7 linked regions of the Homo sapiens genome follow. The protein of the gene in region 5 purifies or fractionates together with the protein of the main gene of each other region. This does not show direct contact. Each region holds a gene or a part of one and is shown on either strand. Other genes may lie near its edges.

Region 1 (3,554 bases), on a different chromosome or scaffold from region 5:
TATAAAACAAACAAACAAAAGAACAATTCCAGGGCACCCCTGTTTCCAGCTCTGTCCACTTTACATTCTCAAAATAAAAGTAGTGTCCCTTTGACAGACACTTTTTCATCACCAGCTCATGGATAAAGCGTCTCTCCTTCCAGACGTCCCCCACGGCCACACCAAGCGGAACCCAAAGAAGGAAGGGTCTGCTTTTCCTCCTGAAGCCATAGGTGGCTGGAGGTGCCCAGCTGGCCGTGGGGAGCGGTGCTGACTCGTGCATAACTGTAGGTTTCACACCTGGGCACGGACCGGCGGGTCAGAAAACTTCTCCCTGAAACTGAAACGAAAACTCCGGGCCATTTTAAAGCCAGCTTGAGGAAGCTGTTTGTAGAGCAGTTGGTAAGAAGTCGCAGGTCTCCTCTGGAGGAAGAAAGAGCAGGGAGGAGCCGTGGGTTGACGCGGGTGTTAAAAGCTGGAAAGACTTTGGAGGCTGCGGGTTGGTCTCCTGGCACTCGGAGTGTGTGTTTTCTGCTGATAGACACTTTGTGGGTGGATGCCCCTGAGATGAGAGGACTCATACCCAGACTAATACTGCCAGGGTGTCAAGAATTCCCATTAAGACCACCCTGGGGGCTGACGGTGGCTTTGTGGTTTCCGTCCACGGGGGACACTGAGTCTTGAGGTTTGTATGACAATGCATTCAACCTGCCCAGGGGAGCCACAGCCCCACTGTGGATCATCTAAGAGTCTCAGCCTCTGACGTGGGCCGAGGTCTCCAATGACCTCCCTGATCCAAGGAAGGACGGGAGGGAGGGAGGGCGGGAAGGAAGGAAGGAAGGAAGGAAGGAGGGAAGAAGAGAAGGAAGGAGAGAGGAGGAAGGAAGAAGAAAGGGGAGAAGACAGGAAAGAAGAAAAGAATGACACAGGGTGAAGAAAGGAGGCAGAGAGGGAGGGAAGGAAGGAGGAGAGGGAAGGAGGAACTAAGGGAGGGAGGGAGGGAGGAGACAGCAGGCCCTGCTAAAGCATCTCCCCCGCCTTGGTCCCCGGGGAGCGGCGCTCAGGAGCCCTCCCGGCAGCCGCCTCTTTACCTGCGCCCCTGACCCGTACACCCTTCCCTCCTTCCCTTGCAGAGCCCGGGCGAGGACCCCTCCAGGATGCAGGTCCCGAACAGCACCGGCCCGGACAACGCGACGCTGCAGATGCTGCGGAACCCGGCGATCGCGGTGGCCCTGCCCGTGGTGTACTCGCTGGTGGCGGCGGTCAGCATCCCGGGCAACCTCTTCTCTCTGTGGGTGCTGTGCCGGCGCATGGGGCCCAGATCCCCGTCGGTCATCTTCATGATCAACCTGAGCGTCACGGACCTGATGCTGGCCAGCGTGTTGCCTTTCCAAATCTACTACCATTGCAACCGCCACCACTGGGTATTCGGGGTGCTGCTTTGCAACGTGGTGACCGTGGCCTTTTACGCAAACATGTATTCCAGCATCCTCACCATGACCTGTATCAGCGTGGAGCGCTTCCTGGGGGTCCTGTACCCGCTCAGCTCCAAGCGCTGGCGCCGCCGTCGTTACGCGGTGGCCGCGTGTGCAGGGACCTGGCTGCTGCTCCTGACCGCCCTGTCCCCGCTGGCGCGCACCGATCTCACCTACCCGGTGCACGCCCTGGGCATCATCACCTGCTTCGACGTCCTCAAGTGGACGATGCTCCCCAGCGTGGCCATGTGGGCCGTGTTCCTCTTCACCATCTTCATCCTGCTGTTCCTCATCCCGTTCGTGATCACCGTGGCTTGTTACACGGCCACCATCCTCAAGCTGTTGCGCACGGAGGAGGCGCACGGCCGGGAGCAGCGGAGGCGCGCGGTGGGCCTGGCCGCGGTGGTCTTGCTGGCCTTTGTCACCTGCTTCGCCCCCAACAACTTCGTGCTCCTGGCGCACATCGTGAGCCGCCTGTTCTACGGCAAGAGCTACTACCACGTGTACAAGCTCACGCTGTGTCTCAGCTGCCTCAACAACTGTCTGGACCCGTTTGTTTATTACTTTGCGTCCCGGGAATTCCAGCTGCGCCTGCGGGAATATTTGGGCTGCCGCCGGGTGCCCAGAGACACCCTGGACACGCGCCGCGAGAGCCTCTTCTCCGCCAGGACCACGTCCGTGCGCTCCGAGGCCGGTGCGCACCCTGAAGGGATGGAGGGAGCCACCAGGCCCGGCCTCCAGAGGCAGGAGAGTGTGTTCTGAGTCCCGGGGGCGCAGCTTGGAGAGCCGGGGGCGCAGCTTGGAGATCCAGGGGCGCATGGAGAGGCCACGGTGCCAGAGGTTCAGGGAGAACAGCTGCGTTGCTCCCAGGCACTGCAGAGGCCCGGTGGGGAAGGGTCTCCAGGCTTTATTCCTCCCAGGCACTGCAGAGGCACCGGTGAGGAAGGGTCTCCAGGCTTCACTCAGGGTAGAGAAACAAGCAAAGCCCAGCAGCGCACAGGGTGCTTGTTATCCTGCAGAGGGTGCCTCTGCCTCTCTGTGTCAGGGGACAGCTTGTGTCACCACGCCCGGCTAATTTTTGTATTTTTTTTAGTAGAGCTGGGCTGTCACCCCCGAGCTCCTTAGACACTCCTCACACCTGTCCATACCCGAGGGTGGATATTCAACCAGCCCCACCGCCTACCCGACTCGGTTTCTGGATATCCTCCGTGGGCGAACTGCGAGCCCCATTCCCAGCTCTTCTCCCTGCTGACATCGTCCCTTAGTTGTGGTTCTGGCCTTCTCCATTCTCCTCCAGGGGTTCTGGTCTCCGTAGCCCGGTGCACGCCGAAATTTCTGTTTATTTCACTCAGGGGCACTGTGGTTGCTGTGGTTGGAATTCTTCTTTCAGAGGAGCGCCTGGGGCTCCTGCAAGTCAGCTACTCTCCGTGCCCACTTCCCCCCACACACACACCCCACCCTGTTGCTGACCAAGGTGATTTTTGGCACATTTGTTCTGGCCTGGCTTGGTGGGACCCCACCCCTATTCTGCTTCTGTGAGTCCCTGATAGAGAAGGAGGTCCCATCAGGCCCCTGGAACACACTCAGGCTTCCCTGACTCAGGACAAGGACCACGGGAGGCCCAGGTGCGGAAAGGAGGCTCCGTGAGATGGGGTCCAGCCCATCCCAACACAAGGGTGCAGCTTGATTCGGGAGTTCCCCACCTCCTGCCCATTCTCCGCGTCCTTTTACCCCATGGAGAGCCTCAGCCATGGCAAGTCCATCTGGAGTCCAGGAAGCAGGCAACTGGCCTGACCCATGAGACCGTTTGGAGACCAAGCAGCAGATGCAGGTGTGGACCCCAGGAACCTACAGGGGTGTCAGCCGCTGAGCCCCCTCCCTGCTGTGTGGGTGGTGAGCAGGCTGGGTCTTTGTCTGTCTTCTTCTACACGGCATGTGCCTGCACCAGCCCCAACACCTGAGCTGGTTTAGCGCAAAGAAGAGCTCTGACTCTCCAGGGGTGCTGGGACATCACGTGGAATTGGATCCCAGGCTCTCTTGGGCGAGAAAGACCATTCTGGAGGTGGGAGTGGGAGAGCTGCCTGTCTGCCCACGGGCTCT
Region 2 (3,554 bases), on a different chromosome or scaffold from region 5:
CATCAGATAAATTCAGCATGTAACCTTTTAGAGTTTCATTCCCTCTGACAATAACTTATCACTATTATTCAATATCTTACTTATCTATACAATAATAGTATGTATAAAAAATGACTGCAGGCAAACATTCTAGGTTTTTGTGTGTTCAAAAAATGAATAGATCAATACTAGGGCTTACAAAACAAATTAACTGACCGGTTGCATTTTTTTGAATGCAATAGATCATTAAAAAAAATGATCTGGGCAGAGGCAACAGTAAAGTAAAGATTCAACCACATAATAGCCATGATTGAGTAATCAACTCACTTGTGATGCTGGAAACTATGTTTCATCTGGATACCCAGTTTCACCGAGAAAACTAAATTGGGCTGAAAATTGTGGTTGATCTGTTTGAGTAGAGGTTATTTTAGCTTGTGAGCAGTGACACGGTGCTCTGGGATTCTGGTCGTGTTGCTCCATCATATAAATTAACTGTCATGGACATTTTACTTTCCATGTAGGTAAAGATAATAAAAGGCTGAGGTTCACCACACAATGTCATGGAAAGGGACATATCTGTCAGCCCAGTGCACACCAGTTCAGACAATCCTCATGTCCACAAGCTTTATATCTATTCTAAATTCATAGGAGTGGGACAGAAGGTTCTGGATTAATGGAATCCTTAAAAAAAAAAAAAAACTGTCTTGTCTACAACCTGAAACTCTTCTGGAATCCAAATGGACTGGGAGCAAACTGGTTGGTTTTTGACAGAAATAAAAGGCCAAGGAAATAAGCAAAATTTATTTCCTTTCTTCAATAATTTTATAATCCAACTCAGGAGCACAGAGTCTCAAAGTCAGTAACCTCCCACAAGCCATCTACAGGCAAGATTTATAATCTGTATAAATAAGATGTATCATCTATATACGGATGTATTTATAACTTACAGCACTCTATTCCCCTGTCCTTCCTCCTTGTCAATCCTATACCTCACATCGTCCCAGAGGAAATATCTGGGAAGATTCTCTTAGCTGTGGCACTATGATTTCCTAGTGAATAGTTTTGTAATCTTAATTTACTAATCCCATCCTTCTATTCAGATGACCAGCAATTATGTGCCACTTATATTAAAAATTCAAAATAAGAAAATGAAAGTTAAAAAAGTAAATAGCCCTATCTGAAAGTTATATATGTAAACAAGAGTTCATGAAAGTTTTTTCTCCAATCACTGTAGTTGATCTTTTGAAAGTTCAGTTTCTTTGATCAACAATCAGTAAACCTCAAAGGTTAAACGTTGAAGAAAAAAAATCTGGAAAGAAAAGAGGTAGAAAACTTAAAATTAAAATGGACACAGCCCCTACTAGAATGAATAGAAACATTAACATAATCGGTCAAGAACACTTACTGGGCATATTCTGAAAAGATGCTTTGACAACTTTAAGCAGATGCCATAATCCTTAATCTCAATTAATTTCTGATAACCAGAGTTTGGAACATTACAAATAGATGCAGGCCAGGTGTGGTGGTTCACACTACCAATCCCAGCACTTTAGGAGGCTGAGGCAGGGGATTGCTTGAGCCCAGGACCATCCTTGAAACCCCATCTCTACCAAAAATACAAAAATTAGCCAGTCTCATAACCCGGTCTCAAAAAATAAATAAATAAATAAATACAAATAGATGGAAGTTAATAAGTCACTCGAGGGTAGCAATTTTCAGACTATAAAAGTTTGAGAAATCCAAGATGCTTAATATTTCAATGATGGGGAAGCAGTTTGGTCTGATGTGGAAAAAAACATAGACATTGAGACGGCTGAAACTCTATAGGAAAGAAAGCAAATGTGATGGAAACTTAGTCAGTTAGAAAAAGGAGAAAGTAGGAAAGTGTGAGTGTTTTGAGGCAGTGGAAAGCACAAACTGAGATTCAAATCATGCTGACAGTATCTCTCTACCCTGTGTAGGACACCTTTGTGCCTACAAAGGTAGGTGGATCAGTGGCCTATGACCCATCACTGATCCCAGGACCAGGTGGCTTCACAGATGAATTCTATCAAACATTCTAGGAATTAATGCCAATCCTGAGTTTAGAAACAGTTCTACATTATCATGTGTAATCAATAAATGATTTAATTCTTTTTTAAAAAAAGAAGCAGTTCTAAACTCAGTTTATGAGACCAGCATCACCCTGATACCAAAACCAGACAAAGACACCACAAAAAAAAAAAAAAAACCTACAGGCTGACATCCCTAATGAACACAGATGAAAAAATCCTCAACAAAATACTAGCAAACTAAATTCACCATCACATTAAATGGATTGTATATTCTAATCAATTCTGATTTATCCCTGGCATGCAAAGATGGTTCAACATATGTAAATCAATCAATGTAATACACCACATTAACAAAGTGATATAAAAAGGCCACATGATCATCAAAATAGAGCATAAAAAGCATTTGACAAATTCAACATCCTTGTGTGATTAAAAAAAAAAAACTCTCAACAAATTAGGTACAGAAAGAATTTACCCCAACACAATAAAGGCCATCTATGAAAAGCCCACAGCTAACATCATACCAAGTCATGTAAGACTGAGAACTTTTGCTCTAAGATCAGGAAAAAGACAAAGGTGGCCACTTTCAACACCTCTGCTTAACATAGTACAAGAAGTCTTAATCAGAGCCATTAAACAAGAAAAAGAAAACAAAAGGCATTCAAATCAGAAAGGAAGAAGTAATATTATCTCTGTTTGCCGATGACATAATCATATATGTATAAAACCCTAAAAGTGCCACAAAAAAACCTGTTCAAACTAATAAATGAATTCAGTTAAGAGGCAGGATACAAAAATCAACATATAAAATATCAGTCAGGTTTCTGTACACAAACAGCAAACTATCCAAAAAAGGAATTAAAACAAAATCCCATCCCCAATAACAATAAAAGGAATAAAGTATTTAAGAATAAACTTAACCAAAAATGTTAAAGACTTGCACACTGAAAATCATATAGCAACTTATTCTTTCATGATTATTGTTTTGCCATCTTTGCTCAAGAACTAATGGTAGCTTTGCTTGACAATTATATGAGATGCAGGTTTTCACTGTCATCACTTAATTTAACCTACCTCGTCCCATATTAATACATAACTTAGACTCTCCATACCAACCTAGTCATTTGACTACAGTCTCCCATGCACCATCTCCCCATTCCTCCTGCATATTTGGGGTTACTCTTCATAACCTGTTTCATGTCATTCCTCAGCTCTAATCATCAATGCCTCATTTGAACCTTGATGGTCCCGCCTGAGTGGTCTCACTGGTGGAAGACGATTATACAAGGACATGAGTAATTATACTTATCAATAGCAAACAGAAGTTTTTTCAATATTAGCCTCCTCCAGAAACTTTCTGCAAGAGCTGATTTTATTTCTTTTGCCTTCATTCTTTTTATAGCCAATAAGGTCAGTTTAAACAATAGTAGTCTGCAAATCATTTAGCTAATATTAAAATATTTGACAAATTATTTTAGTGGCACCTAAAATACTTCTCTTATGACAAATGAAAATCCAGAG
Region 3 (2,289 bases), on a different chromosome or scaffold from region 5:
TCTGAGAATGAGCCCAGAGGCTTGTTTGGGGACTGTTTTACTCTGATACTACCTGGATATCTAGCTTCCTTTACCCCTGTTCTGCTTAACAGAACTGCCAAGCCCAGAAGTACCTTTGCACTCCTGGTTTTCAGTGGACAGAGGAAGCTTTAGATAGAGACTTTAGACCCTGCCCTGCAGAGTCAAGACTTGAGGCCATTGAAGCTGCAGGAAGCCCTGCCCAGGGATGGTCCTGCCATGAGGAGGCTGCAACCCTATAAGAGGGCTCAAGATTGTGAATTCTGCTCCTGCCATGAGGAGCTCAGAAGGCCAGGAAGCCAGCAATAGGGGAGAGAATCTGTGTGCTTATGGACAGTCCTTACCTAAAGCTGTTTCTGAATGTTGCACCCTTTGAGAAATTTCTTCTCAGAACCATAAATTGAAACAAATGAGGACTGATCTTGTATACAAAGTGCCAACTCAAGAGGGAAGTTGGAGTATGTCTGTTGCAGAGAACCAATATAGCAGTGCCCAGGGGTAGAGACCATGTGTTCCATACTCGGATATTTGGGTCTTTTTGAGAGAGCTGGGGAAAGTAGCAGCAACTAGATTAAGACTGGGAGGATTTTGACCAAACTAAAGGCCTTTTCTCCTTACTGCATCTGACGTGTGTCTTCTTGAGACAAGATAGCACCCATGAATTACATCATGAGGTATGTGTGAATTCAGTTTACATGTAAGACCTGAGAGTTCGAAGAGGGCACATTCCCAAAGACATTCCCAGTCATGAAATGTAGAAGACTGGAAAATTAAGACATTATGTAAAGGTAGATATGGCTTTTAGAGTTACATTATGCTTGGCATGAATAAGGTGCCAGGAAAACAGTTTAAAATTATACATCAGCATACAGACTGCTGTTAGAAGGTATGGGATCATATTAAGATAATCTGTCAGCTACTACTAGGCATTTATTGTTAATTGAGTTACAGAAAGTCATTCAAGACTGAGTTTATAGAAAGCATATTGCATCTATCTCTGTGTAGAACATTTGATTCACATTGTGAAGAATGCAGTTTAAAATATACTGAATGCAATCTAGATGTATTGTACACGAAAGGTGAAAAATAACAGGTGCTCTTTACTGTTTAGATAAATTGTTTTCTGTGTTATTTCCCTTCGTTCACTGTGAGGGGTTGATTCATGAGGAGAGCCCTGGGTTCCTGGCTCAGGTTTACTTTTGGCCTTAGGATAGGATTCCCTTATTAGAGATAAATACTGCTGTTCTCTTCTAGCTCATTCATTCATTTAGCAGTCAATTGCTCAGTGCCAGGTGCTAGGAACAGAGGCTCAATCTCTACCCTCAGAAAACTCAGTGTGACGAGAGAGAGCCTGACAGATAAAATGAACTATGACCCTGTAAGAGGGCTCAGGATCGTGAATCCTGCAGGCAGAGAAACATGAGCCATAATCTGTCCCTGCATTTTCTAGCTGTGGAATCTTGGGTCAGCTCCTTAACTGGTCTGAGCTTTGGCTTCAGGGTAGTAAAGGGAGGGGTATTAAAGGTCCTGGTTAAATGAAATCATCAGTGTGTGTAAAACAGCATTGGTTCTAGCTCATACATGATAACCACTCATTAAGTGGTAATTATGTTTTTATTATAAGGGCTATGCTGTAATTCAGACATGGGCCCAAAACTACAGGAAAGATAAATTGTTTTTGCTAAAGTATTGCCAAGAAACTTCACAGTTTCTTGGGAGGTGGGCCTTGAGGCATGCAAAGAACTTCTTCAGGTAGGCAAAGAAGAGAGGACACTCTTGGCAGAAAGAGTTGTTGAAAAAAGCAGTAGGGTGTGAAAATACATGGATGTTCAAGTATTTTGGTGAGGCTGTTATGTAAAGTGTTGTTGGTCTTTGGGGAAAATTGGCTTATGGAAATTCCTGCCAGAAGTACTAAGCCCTTATGGTGGTTCTTCCTGCCCTAGCTCTTGGTTGGTTTATATATAAGGAATATATTTGTGTATTTATATATCAGACATTTGGATGTACCTTTCAGTTATTTAGGATTTAGAAAATTCTTTTTGGATTTTCCAGAATTATTTTATCCTTCGGGGATGACAGTTATATGTGTATATACAACCCAGGATGACAAAATCATGGGTCCGGTTTTTGTTGCCAGGGCTGCTGTCTCTTTTCTTGCGGTCTTCATTTCTCACGAGGGTGCTGGGAACTTGATCAGTCCCCTGGCCTTTTGGCACTGTGGCAGAGTACACAAGTCATACCTTTATGGACAGTTAGCTCACAAAACAACTG
Region 4 (3,554 bases), on a different chromosome or scaffold from region 5:
AACGGGGAGAGGTATGCACACGTGCTCCCTGGGTCAGGGTCACTACTCACATCTTTGTTGCCATCTTTGTTTCGGTCATAGTGTTTGTGGCAGTACCTGCAAGGGAGAGAGTGGTGAGAGCAGGTGGTGTGAGGGGGGCACATCTAAATGAGAGGCTGTGCGTGCAGCCTGCTCGAGCAGCCTAACCACAGCCAAAACTGCGGGCCAGGACGGAGGCGATTCTTGCTCCCGCAGTGGAGTATGGGGAGATGGCCTTCTTAACTCTCATCTCTCTGCAGGGCCTGCTTTTAGACTGCTTAGGAGGTGGGATGTTGGGGCAAACTTACTCCTCAGCCATCCTTGTATCCTTCAAGATGTGGACATAAATGAAAAGAGCTTGTTCATGTTTCCCCATGCGCCCCAACAGGAGAGCTCGTTCTTCTAAGAGGCCTAGGAGGAAAAGGAATATGAGGAACCACTGCCGCCATCACGCAAGCACAAGGTGGGGGCTATGCTGTCAGAGGAGTGGACACGAGGCAATATAAAGGGAAGACAATAGGATTCTTATTGCTTGGGTTTTTCTTCAAGGAGAAAATAACTGAAGTTTAAAAAAGGGGGAGGGAGCTATTTTAGGAAGTACTTTATCCCATCTTTTTTGAGGTCACATATAAACTGGGTAAGAATATTCATTCAGCAGCCAAGTACTTAACAACCACCTACAACATGCTAGGTGGTTCAGGTAAGATGAGCAAATGCTTGCTCTCAGCTCTCATAAAGACAAATTATGCCAGATTACAAAAACTGCTGAACAATGAACTTGGCCAAGAACATGTTCTGAAGCAAAAAACAGGTTGCAACCTGGCTATCAATTAGCATGTGGTTCATACCCAGGAAGGAGACTTTTCTCAGTCACGGTACAAAAGTGAGTCTTCAGAGAGGACAAAACAGGAGCACTGGCCTGAAATGCCTGGTTTTTCCAGGCCCAACTTTTGTGGAGAGTTGGGGAACAATTAAAGGGGTGGATTAGTCTTTGCATGACCTTCGCTGAAGTGGCTTCTGGCCCTAAGCCAGACACTCACCATCAAAGGGAAAATCACAGATGAGCCGGCCTGGATCATAGTAGCTGGAAATCTCCAAGAACATGAGGAGCTTTTGCCGGTATTCTCCCAGCTCACCCTCTTCCTCTCCAGCTGGGACTGGGGTTTTGCCTTTAAGGGAAACCAAGCTCAAAATGAAAGGACACTGCCAGGTGGCAATGTAGGGTCATCAAGAAAAATGAAGGGAATGGGGTTCAAGGATGTCACCACATGACCAGAAAGGGCCTCCAGGGTGGCTTCCATGCTAACTTCTTTTAGTTCATAGTCTCCATGTGGCCCCAAAACATCAGCTTACGGTTAAAAAAATAAGCTGAATAGAGAAATACTCTGTGGGCAAACCTGTTTCTTATCAGTATAGCTGTCATCTTGCAGACAGGTCTGTTCCTTCCACCCTCCCCGAGGGATGACTCTGAGACACTCAGAGATGCCAGGACCTAGACAAGAGCTCCTGAGTCTCATGTGCCAGGCTTGTGTCACTTAGCTCCCCTGGCTCCTCTTCAGAACTTCTGCGCACCTGGGCAGAGAATAGGGTGGCCTGCTTACCCCCACCACACGTGGCACCTGGGTCTGTGCTCTCCTCTAAGGCCTGGGGCCAACCGGCTTCCTAAAAGAACTGGTACCTGCAGGGAAGGACAGGAGATACTCCTTCATCAGACCTTGCACCTTCTCACAGTATAGCTGGATCAGGCAGTTGTGGAACCGAGAGCCTGTCTCCTCCCAAACATGGATGATGTGTTCCTGAGGCAAGATGTAGGTCTTTGTCACTGGTATTCTCCAGGCTGTGACCTGGTCTCCCAGCCTCCCTCACATTTTTAAGGCCCAACAGGTCCCATCCAGATTATCCCCTAATCGGGCTGCAAAGATGACTAAGAGACAGCTCGTCTAAAGCCACCAGGAAGTTTCACAATGCGACCCAGTAACGTGAGGAGCCATCTTCTCAATTACTAAACTCCATTTTACTAATTTTGTCCCATAATCCTCCAAACTCTCATAGCGACTCATGTAATTGTGGTTAAATATCTGCATCCTGGTACTTAAGCCTATTTGATTGTCCTGTGGTCACTTTTGAGTTTCGCTTTGGAATTTTTTTTCCAAATGTGGCTTTGGAATTTTTTTTTCTAAAACATTATTCTTTTATCCCTCTGTAGTTTACCTAGATTTGGTAGGTAGCATTTCCAGCTTGGTCTACTGGGATCTTTTTCTTCAGAGGAAGCTGAAATAACCCTCATCCTTCCAATCCCCAAGTGACATAAATCCCAAATCTGAACAGCCCGATAACAGAACCACGCAGTCCTGGATCCTGGGTTTAAAGCTTTTTAGTGCAGACCAAAAAATACCTTACCAGATAAGGAATAGCCAGACCCTTAAAATTCTCTATTAAGAAGCCGAGGACTCGATCACGTGGCAGAGACTCCACTTCCGGGAGATCTTCAGTAAATATCTGTTAGAATGAACCCGAGTTCCAGCAGCAGAACCATCTGACTGCAGTTCCAGCAAACACACACGCATGTGAGCGCAGGGATCAAACAGACTTTAGGAGGGCAAGGGTACGAGAAGGCATCTGTAGGCAGTCAGCATGTCAGACGAGGCACAGGCCTCCTCATGCCTGTGTAAGGCTCTCTCTACCAACTACAGTGCTGGCTCGCGCTTCCCAGTCCACCCTTTCTTCATGCACCAATGAAGACAGATGCATGAATCCACCCTCCTCTCCATCCACTGCTGTCTCAAGTGCAATCAGAACCAAGTGTTTACCAGATAAATCCAAGGGACTCCTGTGGCTCACCTTCAGGCCATCTTCTGGGAAGTCTCTCAGCACCCACACTGAGTAGGAGAAAATCAAATGCAGGTTTTCTGTGCCTAGAAGGAAAAGCAGGACTTGTCAGCAGTTGAGGCCCATCTTGCCTGTGGCACTGGGAAGGCAGGTGGGCAGGTTGCCCCAGAATTCATTTTCCTGAAAAGACAGCTCAAGCATGAGCCACTTGGGGTTGTTAGCCCTACTGGGCTGGCTCCATACCAGGGGGCTGTCACAGGCCAACCACCGAGGGACTTTTATGCCATTTGGAGGAATGAAATTGAGTGAACACGAGCACGGGAGGGAGGGGAGCAACCAACCAGAAACAGAAACAGAGGGAGACCAGGTCATTTGAACAGGAGCGCTTTCCCACCCCTTTCAAAAGGCGGACTTACCCAGATGCTGCAGATACTGCACTGTCCTCTCGTGGCCTTTCAGAGGGGAGTTGGCTTTCTTGGACTGGTCCACGAGCACCTGCAGAGCTGGCCACCAAGCCCAAGAACAAGGTCATGAGCCTTTTCCCCACGGGAGATTTCCATATCTCAGTGGGTTTCCCCTGCCATGTACAAGAGCCCCTCCCAGATCCAAGGAACCACTCCCACACCTTTCTCGTGGAGCCCCTTCTTCTCATACAGGATGATAAGCTCACTGTACTTGTGAGCCTTCTTTAGCACGTGCTCGCTCTC
Region 5 (3,554 bases):
CTTTTGCCCAGGTTGGAGTGCAGTGACGTGATAATACCTCACTGCAGCCTTGACCTCCTAGGCTTGAACGAATTTTCAGCCTCAGCCTTTTGAGTAGCTGGAACTACAGGCATGTGCCGCCACACCTGGCTAATTTTTTTTTAATTTCTTTTTTTTTCTATTTTTATTTTTTGGAGAGACAGCGTCTTATTATGTTGTCCAGGCTGGTTTTGAACTTATTCTGGAGATTTTTTAGAAATGAAATTCTATAATACATAAATGGTCCTTTGTGTCTGGCATCTTCACTTAGTGTAATGTTTTGAGGGTTCACCCAGGTTGAAGCCTGCGCGAGGCCTTCATTCCTTCTTATTGCTGAATAGTATTCCATTGTAATGATATTATCATTCATCAGCTGATGGACACCTGATGGGTTGTTTCCACTTTTTGGCTGTCACGATACTGTGAATATTGTGAAAAGTTTTTATGTGGATGTATGGTTTCATTTCTCTTAGATATACCTAGGAGTAGAGACTGGGCGTGGTGGCTCACGCCTGTGATCCTAGCACTTTGGGAGGCTGAGGTGGATGGATCACTTGAGGTTGGGAGTTCAAGACCAGCCTGACCAACATGGAGAAATCCCGTCTCTACTAAAAATACAAAATTAGCCAGGCATGATGGCGCATGCCTGTAATCCCAGCTACTTGGGAGGCTGAGGCGGGAGAATTGCTTGAACCTGGGAGGTGGAGGTTACAGTGAGCTGAGATCACGCCATTGCACTCCAGCCTGGGCAACAAGAGTGAAACTCTGTCTCAAAAATACATACATACATACATACATACATACATACATACATACATACACACATACATACACACACACACACCCCTAGGAGTAGAATTGCTGAGTTGTGGTAACTCTGCATTTAACATTTGGAGGAGCTGCCAAACTCTTTTGCACTGAAGCTGTACCGTTTGTACTCCCAGCAGCAGTGTGGGAGGGTTCCAGTTGTATATCCACATGGACAGACTTATTATTCTGTCTTTTTTTTTTTTTTTTTTTTTGAGATGGATTGTCACTTTGTCACCCAGCCTGGAGTACAGTGGTGCGATCTCGATCTTGGCACACTGCAACCTCGGCCTCCCAGGCTCAAGCAATTCTCCCGCCTCAGCTTCCTGAGTAGATGGGATTACAAGCATGCACCACCACGCCTGGCTAGTTTTTGTATTTTTAGTGGAGATGGGGTTTCGCCATGTTGGTCAGGCTGGTCTTGAACTCCTGACCTCAGGTGATCCACCTATCTCAGCCTCCCAAAGTGCTGCGATTACAGGCGTGAGCCACCATGCCTGGCCTGTTATTCTTTGAATTTAGTCATCCTACTGAGTATGAAGTGGTGTCTCATTGTAGTTTTTATTTGCATTTCCATAATGACTAAGGATGTTGATCATCTTTTCTTGTGCCTGTTGGCCTTTGTCTTCAGCTAAACAAATGTCTGTTCAGATCACTTGCCCATTTTTAAAATTGGGTTCTGTCATTTTTATTACAGAATTGTAAGAATTCTTAATAGATTCTAAATGCAAGTCTCTCCTCAGATACATGATTTCCAAGTATTTTCTTTTGTTCTGTGAGTTCTTTTCACTTTCTTGGTGAGATTGGTGTCGTTCGATGCACTAAAGTTTTAAATTTTGGTGAAGTCTCTTTTATCCAGTTTTTCTCTTGTTACTTGTGCTTTCAGTATCATCTCTGAGAAGCCATTGCCTACCCCAGGATCACAAAGATTCACTCTGATGTTTCCTTCTAAGAGTTCTATAATTTTTTATTTTTTAAAGAGACAGGTCTCACTATGTTGCCCAGGCTGGTCTCACACTCCTGAGCTCAGGCAATCCTCCCGCCTCAGCCTCCCAAAGTGCTGGGATTACAGGTGTGACCCACCGCGCCCAGCTTATAATTTTTCTACATCTTATGTTTAGGTCTTCAACCCATTTTAAGTTAATTCTGTATGTAATGCAAGGTGGGTGTCCAAATTTCATTTTTTACACATGGATATCTATTTGTTCCAGCACTATTTGTTGAAAAGACTGTATTTTCCTCATTGAATTGTTTTGGTACCCTTGTCAAAAATCAATTGTCCACAAATGTAAGGGTCTGTTTTTGGTCTTTTAGTTCTGTTTCACTGATCTATATGTCTGTATGTCCGTCCTTATGCCAGTACTACACTGTCTTGATTACAGTAGCTTTGCCATAAGCTTTGAAATCAGAAGTGTGAGTCCTTCACCCTAAAGCAGGTAAATATATCACTTTTGTTCTTTTAGATTGTGCTTTTTGAGTCTTCATAAATCTTCCACTCTGCAGACAAAGAAGAAAATCTTTTTTTTTTTGAGATGGAGTCTCACACTGTCACCCAGGCTGGAGTGCACTGGTGTAATCTCAGCTCACTGCAACCTTCACCTCCCAGGTTCAAGCAGTTCTCCTGCCTCAGCCTCCCAAGTAACTAGGATTACAGGCACACACCACCACGCCCAGCTAATTTTTTTGTGTATTAGTAGAGACGGGGTTTCACCGTGTTGTCCAGCCTCCTGAGCTTCCACCTGCGCCCGGCCCTTTTTTTTTTTTTTTTTTTTTTTGAGGCAGAGTCTCACTCTGTTGCCCAGGCTGGAGTGCAGTGGCACAGTCTCGACTCACTGCAACCTCCGCCTTCTGGGTTCAAGCAGTTCTCTTGCCTCAGCCTCTCAAGTAGCTGGGATTACAGGCATCCACCACCACGCCCGCCTAATTTTTGTATTTTTAGTAGAGACGGGATTTTACCATGTTGCCCAGACTGATCTCGATGTCCTGACCTCAGATGATCCACCTGCCTCGGCCTCTGAAAGTGCTGGAATTACAGGCGTGAGCCACTGTGCCTGGCCTGAAGCTACTTTTTACCCCAGTTCTCAGACTGCCCCTTATCCCAGAAGCAATCACTATTTCTCTTTTAATTTGGGGTGGGGGGATATTATATGCAGCTACAGCTCATAGTATATAATCCCTCCCCACTTTTGTACAAGTAGTAGCATATGATATATATACTTTGGTATGTTGCGTTATTCTCTTAATAATATCTCTGAGTCATTTTCTACCACGTATGGCAATACTTGTTTATTCTCATTTGAAGCTGCATAGAGTTCCATTGTTTGGATGTACATAATGTATTAAATCAGCTTTCTGTTGGAGAGCATTTTTTTCCTCTCTACGCTGTTGGAGGCAGTGCTGCCGAGAATGAGCCTGTTTGTAGGCCCCTCTGCACATGCGCCCTTTGTAGGCTGCGTTCGCCTTTGTCATTTCTTTTGACATTGCTTCTGGTAATTTTGGCTGTGTGTATGTTTTTAACATAATCACACTTACCCATGTTTCTTTGATTTATGAGTTTATGATGCTGCTGCTGCTGGTGCCGCTGCTGCTGCTCTGGAGACTAGAACTTTTTTTTTTTTAATTGTTTTTGAGACAGATTCTCACTCAGTCACCCAGGCTGGGATGCAGTGGCACAATCTCGTCTCACCGCAACTTCCACCTCCCCAGTTCAAGCAATTCTCCCGTCTTAG
Region 6 (3,554 bases), on a different chromosome or scaffold from region 5:
TCCACAGCTTTTCCTCTCAGGCTATCAGAGGACCTGATGTTTGCTTCCCCTGCCAAGTGTCTCCTGAGGTGGCGGGAGCTTATTCATTCAGCTTCCAGCATGTCTGCAAAACCACTTCTCAGCCCGCGGAATCTTAGTCTTTTGCCCAGAACCCACAGAAAGGTCAAAACAAACACAACTCCTTGGGTTTATGAAATTTCTCCAGGACCAAGTACCCACAATAGGAACATGAGCTTCTGTCTTCAAAATGACCACCATGTTGGGGTGGGGTGGAAAAGGGTGAGCTAAAGACAGCATGCCCTCTGCCTATTCAGGGCCTTCCCCCGGCTAAGCGTTCACTTGGTTGGCATAAGCCTTTGAGTATCTTTGTTGTTGTTGTTGTTGTTTCTTGAATGGTCCCTACACCACCATTTTCACTGACCTCCTTTGTTGGGATTTTAACAGTTTTTTAATTGTTGATAGGAAACTTCTTATCAAATTCAGTATGTATTTGCTAAAAACGTTTCTTCATCTCATCTACTTTATTATCTCAAAAAAATTCTTAACAGAGCTTTTTCATTTTTCTCTGCCACAGCAAATTGCAGTTGCCATTCATGGTGAAATCTGCTTCATGCCCTCAACTCTTTTATTTTTCTGTGCTTCTCTGATCATAGTATGAGTTTCTCATCTCTGTCTGGTTCTCTCTCCCTCCCTCCCCTTCCCCCTCCAATTCCTCTCTCTCCCACTCCCCCACCTCAGGAAGCTGCACTGCACCAGGAATTACATCCACCTGAACCTGTTCCTGTCCTTCATCCTGAGAGCCATCTCAGTGCTGGTCAAGGACGACGTTCTCTACTCCAGCTCTGGCACGTTGCACTGCCCTGACCAGCCATCCTCCTGGGTAAGGCTGTCCCCACCACAGGGTCCCACTGTCTTGTCCCTTTATCTCTGTTCCCTCTTCTCACGATGAGGACGTCTCTGTGCTGGTGCAGGGTTCCTGTCAGGGCACAGGGTCATGGCTGAGAAACAGAGAGCCTGGCAGAGAGGCTGGGGCCAGAACAGGCCCAGTTGGCAGCTGAGACATGGGGGTGGCACTGAGGCAGGGAGGGTGGGGTTCCCAGGCATCATCAGGGCTGGGAAGTGAAAGGGCCCTGAGCCCTGACCCCCATGGAGCTAGACTGAGGAAAGGCACACCCTTCCTCACACACATCTGGGTTGAGAAATCTTGGCACAGATGAACACACACAACTCTGTTGCTTTCTGTCTGAATCTCCTAGATTCTGAGCAGTAAAGGCTTCCTTCCAGATTGCTGGAAGAACTTGATCTTGTGCCATGGGTAAATTCCTTGTAAAGCCTGATTGTGAACTCAGTTGCATATCTATGAATATCTGCGTCCAACTCTTTGATTTCAGGATAATCTTAATTATTAGTTCCTACAAATGCAGTACAGGGTGTTTGACTCCACCCACGCCCTTCTCCCTCAGCTGTATTTGTAGTAGTTATTGGTGGTTATATAGTACCTAATCAAGTCAGTTTAACATAGCAGGTGCTGTTGAGCACCTCCTACATGCAGGCCGTTCTACCAAGCACATCCCTGCTGGCCCAGAGCACTCCACATGCTCGGCATCTTTGTGAAGGATTCGTGCCCCTGGTACCTCACTCTCAACCAGAGACCCTTGCTACCAAGGTTCTTCTTAAGGAGCCAGGAGCTCCAGACTCTCCTCCCGCATTCCACGCAGATAGGTCCCTCTGCTGGCACAGTTGCTCAGTCTAAACAGATTTGAATTAACTTAGTTTTAAGATAGTAAAGCCGTTTATAACCACACAGACGTCAGCTTTTTCATAGCCCATCATCGTCTTCATGCAGGAAATGTGCCTCTGGGGATAAGCTGGCGCGTGATGCCTGTGAATCAGATTTGCTGTGATAACAAAATTAAAAACAAGATTTTTCACCTGGCAAGCCCCGTTCCCCAGGTGGAGTTGGGCCCCTGGAGTTCCTGTCCTAGTAATAGGGTCTCCCCACATGTGTAACAGTGGTCAACGCCCATAAGAAGTGTGAGGATGGTGTCGGATTCTCTCTCACCGAGATGGTTTCAGGCTTCACTCTGCAGATCCCCTGCCCTTAGCTCTTCATGAAGAAAGCAGTCACCCTTGACAGACACTTGACAGACCCTCAGAGGACCACTCGGACCCATGGCAGACCCTCAACGGACCCATGACGTCAAAAGCAGTGACCCATGAAAGACCCTCAGGACCCGTTACAGACCCTCAGGACCCATGACGGACCCTCAGGACCCTGACGGACCCTCAACGGACCTGTGATGTAGAAAGCAGTGACCCATGACAGACCCTCAGGACCCATGACAGACCCTCAGGACCCTGACGGACCCTCAATGGACCTGTGATGTAGAAAGCAGTGGCCCATGACAGACCCTTGGGACCCGCGACATGGAAAGCAGTGACCCGCAACAGACCCTTGACAGACCGTTAGGACCCTCGACAGACCCTCAGGACCCTCGACAGACCCTCAGTGGACCCCAGCGGACCCTGGAGGACCTGCAACATGGAAAGTGGTGGCCCTCGGGACTGGGTGCTGGCCTGGAGCAGCAGCTCTCTACTCTCCCCTATTGCTTCAACCTGAAAGGAGTGCCCAGAACCTCCGAGGCAGAGTGGATCTGAGCCAGCGTGGCTGCCCCACCGGGAGGGCCTGGCCTCCCACACACTGCACAGAGCATCCTGTAAATGCCGGGCTGTTTCTGTGGACACTGGGTGAACACTCATTCGCCTTCAGAAGAGCAGTTGCCCCATTTCACAGACGAGGAAACTGGGCAGAGGGGAACCCAGCAACTGGCCCGGAGTCTCGGGATCCAAAGCCCAGGTGCATGTGGGGCCCCACGATGCCCAGCAGCACAGAGCCAGTGCCCCAAGTCAAGCTCTGTGAGGACAGAGGGAGTCGGCTTTGCCCCTTGTGCCAGATGCCCCGTGACTCTAGTACCAGCAAGGGGAAAGCAGAGGCAAAGGGAAAAGCATGTGACAGACAGAGGAGGGAAGGGACAGAGGACAGGAGGGAGGGGAGATGCCTGAGGCCAGAGAGGAGCCAAGCTGGGTCTTCCCTCTCGCTGTCCTCTAAAGAACGCTCAGGCTTTGAATAAACAAGTCAGCCAGAAATAGTCAGACCTCAGTATAAGAAACAGGAAAAATAGCTTTCCTTCCAGTTGAATTTTTTTGTATATTTTTTGTTCCCAGCTGACTTCACCAAACCAAGGTTATTCTCCCAGGCAGAACACCTGGGGCAGCACCCCCAAAATAGGTGCAGGGTCTTTTTCTCATGATATTAGGATCAGCCAAGAAGATGAACAGTTCTCTTCTTGGCCCCTTCCATGCGGCCTAGACAGAGACACAGTTTCCTCTGGGGCCCTGGGCTGTCCCGGGACACGGAGCAAACCTGCCCTTTATTCTCACCATCAGCCACAGCAGGTTCCCCTGCGGGGTCTGTGGGACTCCCAGAAGCACACCCCCAAGCTTACTAAGCTGAGTCCTGCCTGCCTCACGTGCACATGTGTGCGTACTCACGT
Region 7 (3,554 bases), on a different chromosome or scaffold from region 5:
TTTGCTATCTCTACATTCTTTCCATGTCTAAACTCATCCCTTCTCTTGGCGTTAAATACCATGTATATGCAGACAACTCCTAAATTATTATCTCTTGCCCGAGCCTCTCCTTAAAGGTACATTTCCTGTATTCATCTTCCATCCCCACCTAGATGTCTCATGGATATCGCTAAAGTACCATGTCCAAATAGAACCCTGAAATGTGTCTTTCCTTCTGCCCCTCTCTGAGTGTTCCCATCTCATCAGCACCACCATCCACTGGCTGGCCTAAGGCAGAATACTGAGTATCAACTTTAATTTCTTACTTTCCTTCACTGCCAACCTACAAACCAGGAAATCTTTTAGTTAAAAATTTATCTAAAATTCACCCATTAGTCTAATGCAACCATCATTATCACTCCATAAACTACTGTAACAGCTTCCTTCCAAGATCCAGCTTTCCCTCTGGCATCTCTCAAATTTATTCTCCCATGCTACCAGAGTGGCCTTTTTAAACCCTAATGGTCATATTATTCCTCTCTTAAGATCCTTTACCCGCTTTCCATTGTGTTTTGCATAAAATCTAAATTTTTCACCTTGGCCTACAAGACCTGCCTGATCTGGCCCCTGACAAAGTCTTTACAGTGTTAACCACCATCGTCATTATTGCTATTATCACAATCATCTTGATTCAGAACCATTTCAGCTATTTCACCATTGGTTAATAAATGAACAACTGGAGCCTCATTATCAGTGTTAAAAATTTCTTCAATATCAACTTCTTCCAACTTACTGGTGGACTCTGAAGGTACTTTTTTTTGCGTATGTATGGTCAGACATCTTTTTTTTTTCTCATTTGACATACAGAATCATTCAAAGTCACTTTATTTATAATACTTACTGAACATAGTTGCAGGACAGAGGTTATGCCAGGTATGCACAACTGTCTTTAGTTACTGCATTACAAGCATTGGCAACAGCATATACAACATCCTTTATGCGAAACACCCACACCTATGTTCACTGCTGATAACATACTGTTTACGAAAATGTTTTATATTTACACTGATTGATCTAAGGACACCATTCTCACATGGCTAAATTAATAAAGTCACATTTGGGGAAAAGCACATGGAATAAGTATTACTTTTGATGAGAATTTTAGCTGAAGAATAAGCATAAAAGTTGTCAAGGAATAACAAAATCTTGCAGCCTTCATCCAGTCCAGCTTCCCTGCAGTGAGCATGAGCCATTGCTACAAAATGTTGTGAAAACAATCACAAAAGATGTCCCTGGTGACCCATGCCTTTTGTTAGCATGATAATGGACTAGTAAGAAATTTACTCTTTGAAAATAGTGAGAATTCAAGCTTTTGCCTATTACAGCAGGTTTACATTTGTGTGTGCCTGCTGCATTAGCACATCCCAGCGCAATTATCCTGTCCTTGGTATCCTGATTGCCCACAAGGCCTGTCTCATCGGCTGAAGTCAGTGTCTTTCTGAAGCAATAATGCCAAAACAGTGATGTTTCATCAGCACTATAGACTTGATCTAGTGTGAGAATTTTTATCAGTGATGATCTTGGCAAACTCATCAATAAATTTCTCTGCTGCTTTCTGATCAGCAGATGTTTCGTCACTACAAATATTTGAAAATTTAATGCCATGTTTTTTCTTAAATTTATGCCAAAGAACTACGCATATTCGCAGTTCTTTTAAATTTTCAGTTCATCGTGATAGATCTTTTCCTGTTTCATGATCAGCATACCATTAAGTGGCATGTGTTCTTTGTGATACTGATGGATCCACTTTCTCAATACACAATTGGGATCTTCATTTGTAGCTTTGTGGAATGTTTTTTTACATTTTTCATTAACTTCAGCATAGGACTTAAACAGTTTATCCTTCTATTTCTTTGAGTCATATATGGTGGTCATTTCAACACCATACTCTTTTTTTATTGTTACTTTTTTGAGATGGAGACTCACTCTGTTGCCCAGGCTGGAGTGCAGTGATGTGATCTCAGCTCACTACAACCTCTGCCTCCCAGGTTCAAGCAATTTTCCTGCCTCAGCCTCCCAAGTAGCTGGGATTACAGGCACATGCCTCCACACCCAGCTAATTTTTCTGTTTTTAGTAGAGACAGGGTTTCACCTTGTTGGCCAGGCTGGTCTCAAACTCCCAACCTCAGGTGATCCACCTGCCTCAGCTTCCCAAAGTGCTGGAATTACAGGCATGAGCCACTGCGCCTGGCCTCAACACCATACTCTTCTATCAGACATTTTATACCTATACCACTGTCCAATTTATCCAAAAGCTTGACTTTCTGTGTTATAAGTATACATAAATGCTTCCTTTTTTTTTCTTATCACTGTTACCCATAAGTATCTGCAGACCTTTTTGATATTTTCAACAGTATATTTACATCACAGAGTAGAGAAAAAGCAAAACAAAAACAAAATAAAAAAAAACCCCAAAAAACAAAAAAAGACACACACAGAGAAATACACACAAATCTTGGCCCCATGGAGGCAGAGTGGCAAATCTGCTATAGGCTCATTCATCCTGCACAGGTGCCATTTTTTACCCTTTGTGGACTTGCTTTCATGGGAAAAACTGGGTGTTCAAGAAAAAGATATATCACAGCCGAAAGGGGCTGGGAAATTCTTTTTTCTCTTGTTAATTCTGAGTAAACTGTGCATTGTGTACCTGCATTTTGACTGTGACCCATCACATGAGGTCAAGTAGGAAATTTTCTACTTGTTTCATGTTTGTGCTCAAAAATTTGGAGTTTTGGAGCACTTCCACTCAAATTTTCAGATTAGGGATGCCCAACATATATGCGTGTATATATATATATGTATATATGTGTATATATATATGTATATATGTATATATACATATATATATACATATATACACCAGGAACTAGAAGATGCCTGAAACATAGTATGTACTCAATAAATATGGTTGATTAAACAAATGGATGGGTGAATGAATAAATAAATAAAGGTATACACATTTTCAATCCTGGTGTCTTTTCATATGTGAAAGTTATCATTTTCTCTCTGAACTTTTGTGACTTAGCACAACATTTTAATTTGTAAAATTACTTTCAATATACAAGGAAAGAATTAGAAAACCAGTTGGGATGAAAACGCCTGATGCTCTTCTTGCATATGTTGTTGAATACCAAAATCTTGCTAGGAGTTCATACATAAACAAGGTAGATGGAGAGAGCTGGGAAGATTGTGAGAATGCAATTTTTTCCCCATTGTCTCTGCCTAGCCTTTCTCATATCACAGAATGACACGATGTTAAATGTGAAACCAGATCTCATTCAGCTCTCTTGTTTTGTAATATTAAAACTGTGACTCAGAGAGGTTAAATGACTTCCTCTCAAATCCCTTGAAGTTCCTGGCACAATCAGGTCTAAAATATAGGATTGCTTGACTTTCAGTCCAATGGCCATTCAATTAGTCACATCTCTATTCCTGTATTCCCTGACTTCTCCTCCTCAACTGTACCAGCTTTTCCAATAAAACTTGCTTGATCTAAATTGCTCTCCCTAGGCATT

What was found.
Region 1: the proteins of VPS33A (region 5) and P2RY8 purify together in Homo sapiens (co-immunoprecipitation; one large-scale study listed by IntAct). This does not show direct contact.
Region 2: the proteins of VPS33A (region 5) and CD226 purify together in Homo sapiens (co-immunoprecipitation; one large-scale study listed by IntAct). This does not show direct contact.
Region 3: the proteins of VPS33A (region 5) and RIC3 purify together in Homo sapiens (co-immunoprecipitation; one large-scale study listed by IntAct). This does not show direct contact.
Region 4: the proteins of VPS33A (region 5) and VPS39 purify together in Homo sapiens (co-immunoprecipitation; one study listed by IntAct). This does not show direct contact.
Region 6: the proteins of VPS33A (region 5) and VIPR2 purify together in Homo sapiens (co-immunoprecipitation; one large-scale study listed by IntAct). This does not show direct contact.
Region 7: the proteins of VPS33A (region 5) and ANKRD22 purify together in Homo sapiens (co-immunoprecipitation; one large-scale study listed by IntAct). This does not show direct contact.

What each region holds. Positions count from the first base shown.
Region 1 is NC_000023.11:1,464,141-1,467,694, reverse strand, and holds part of P2RY8 (S-geranylgeranyl-glutathione receptor P2RY8), read left to right. Parts: intron 1-476; exon of another isoform or gene 477-664; intron 665-1,112; 5' UTR 1,113-1,136; coding exon 1,137-2,216; 3' UTR 2,217-3,554. UniProt on the Homo sapiens protein: G protein-coupled receptor for S-geranylgeranyl-glutathione (GGG), an endogenous metabolite present in lymphoid tissues.
Region 2 is NC_000018.10:69,888,825-69,892,378, forward strand, and holds part of CD226 (CD226 antigen isoform a precursor), read right to left. Parts: intron 1-3,554.
Region 3 is NC_000011.10:8,107,787-8,110,075, reverse strand, and holds part of RIC3 (protein RIC-3 isoform a precursor), read left to right. Parts: 3' UTR 1-2,289. UniProt on the Homo sapiens protein: Molecular chaperone which facilitates proper subunit assembly and surface trafficking of alpha-7 (CHRNA7) and alpha-8 (CHRNA8) nicotinic acetylcholine receptors.
Region 4 is NC_000015.10:42,163,300-42,166,853, forward strand, and holds part of VPS39 (vam6/Vps39-like protein), read right to left. Parts: coding exon 3,473-3,554; intron 3,351-3,472; coding exon 3,264-3,350; intron 2,934-3,263; coding exon 2,860-2,933; intron 2,518-2,859; coding exon 2,419-2,517; intron 1,815-2,418; coding exon 1,697-1,814; intron 1,591-1,696; coding exon of another isoform or gene 1,574-1,590; exon of another isoform or gene 1,420-1,573; intron 1,188-1,419; coding exon 1,059-1,187; intron 430-1,058; coding exon 327-429; intron 97-326; coding exon 51-96; intron 1-50. UniProt on the Homo sapiens protein: Regulator of TGF-beta/activin signaling, inhibiting SMAD3- and activating SMAD2-dependent transcription.
Region 5 is NC_000012.12:122,256,473-122,260,026, reverse strand, and holds part of VPS33A (vacuolar protein sorting-associated protein 33A), read left to right. Parts: intron 1-3,554.
Region 6 is NC_000007.14:159,040,361-159,043,914, reverse strand, and holds part of VIPR2 (vasoactive intestinal polypeptide receptor 2 isoform 1 precursor), read left to right. Parts: intron 1-738; coding exon 739-880; intron 881-3,554. UniProt on the Homo sapiens protein: G protein-coupled receptor activated by the neuropeptides vasoactive intestinal peptide (VIP) and pituitary adenylate cyclase-activating polypeptide (ADCYAP1/PACAP).
Region 7 is NC_000010.11:88,845,327-88,848,880, forward strand, and holds part of ANKRD22 (ankyrin repeat domain-containing protein 22), read right to left. Parts: intron 1-3,554.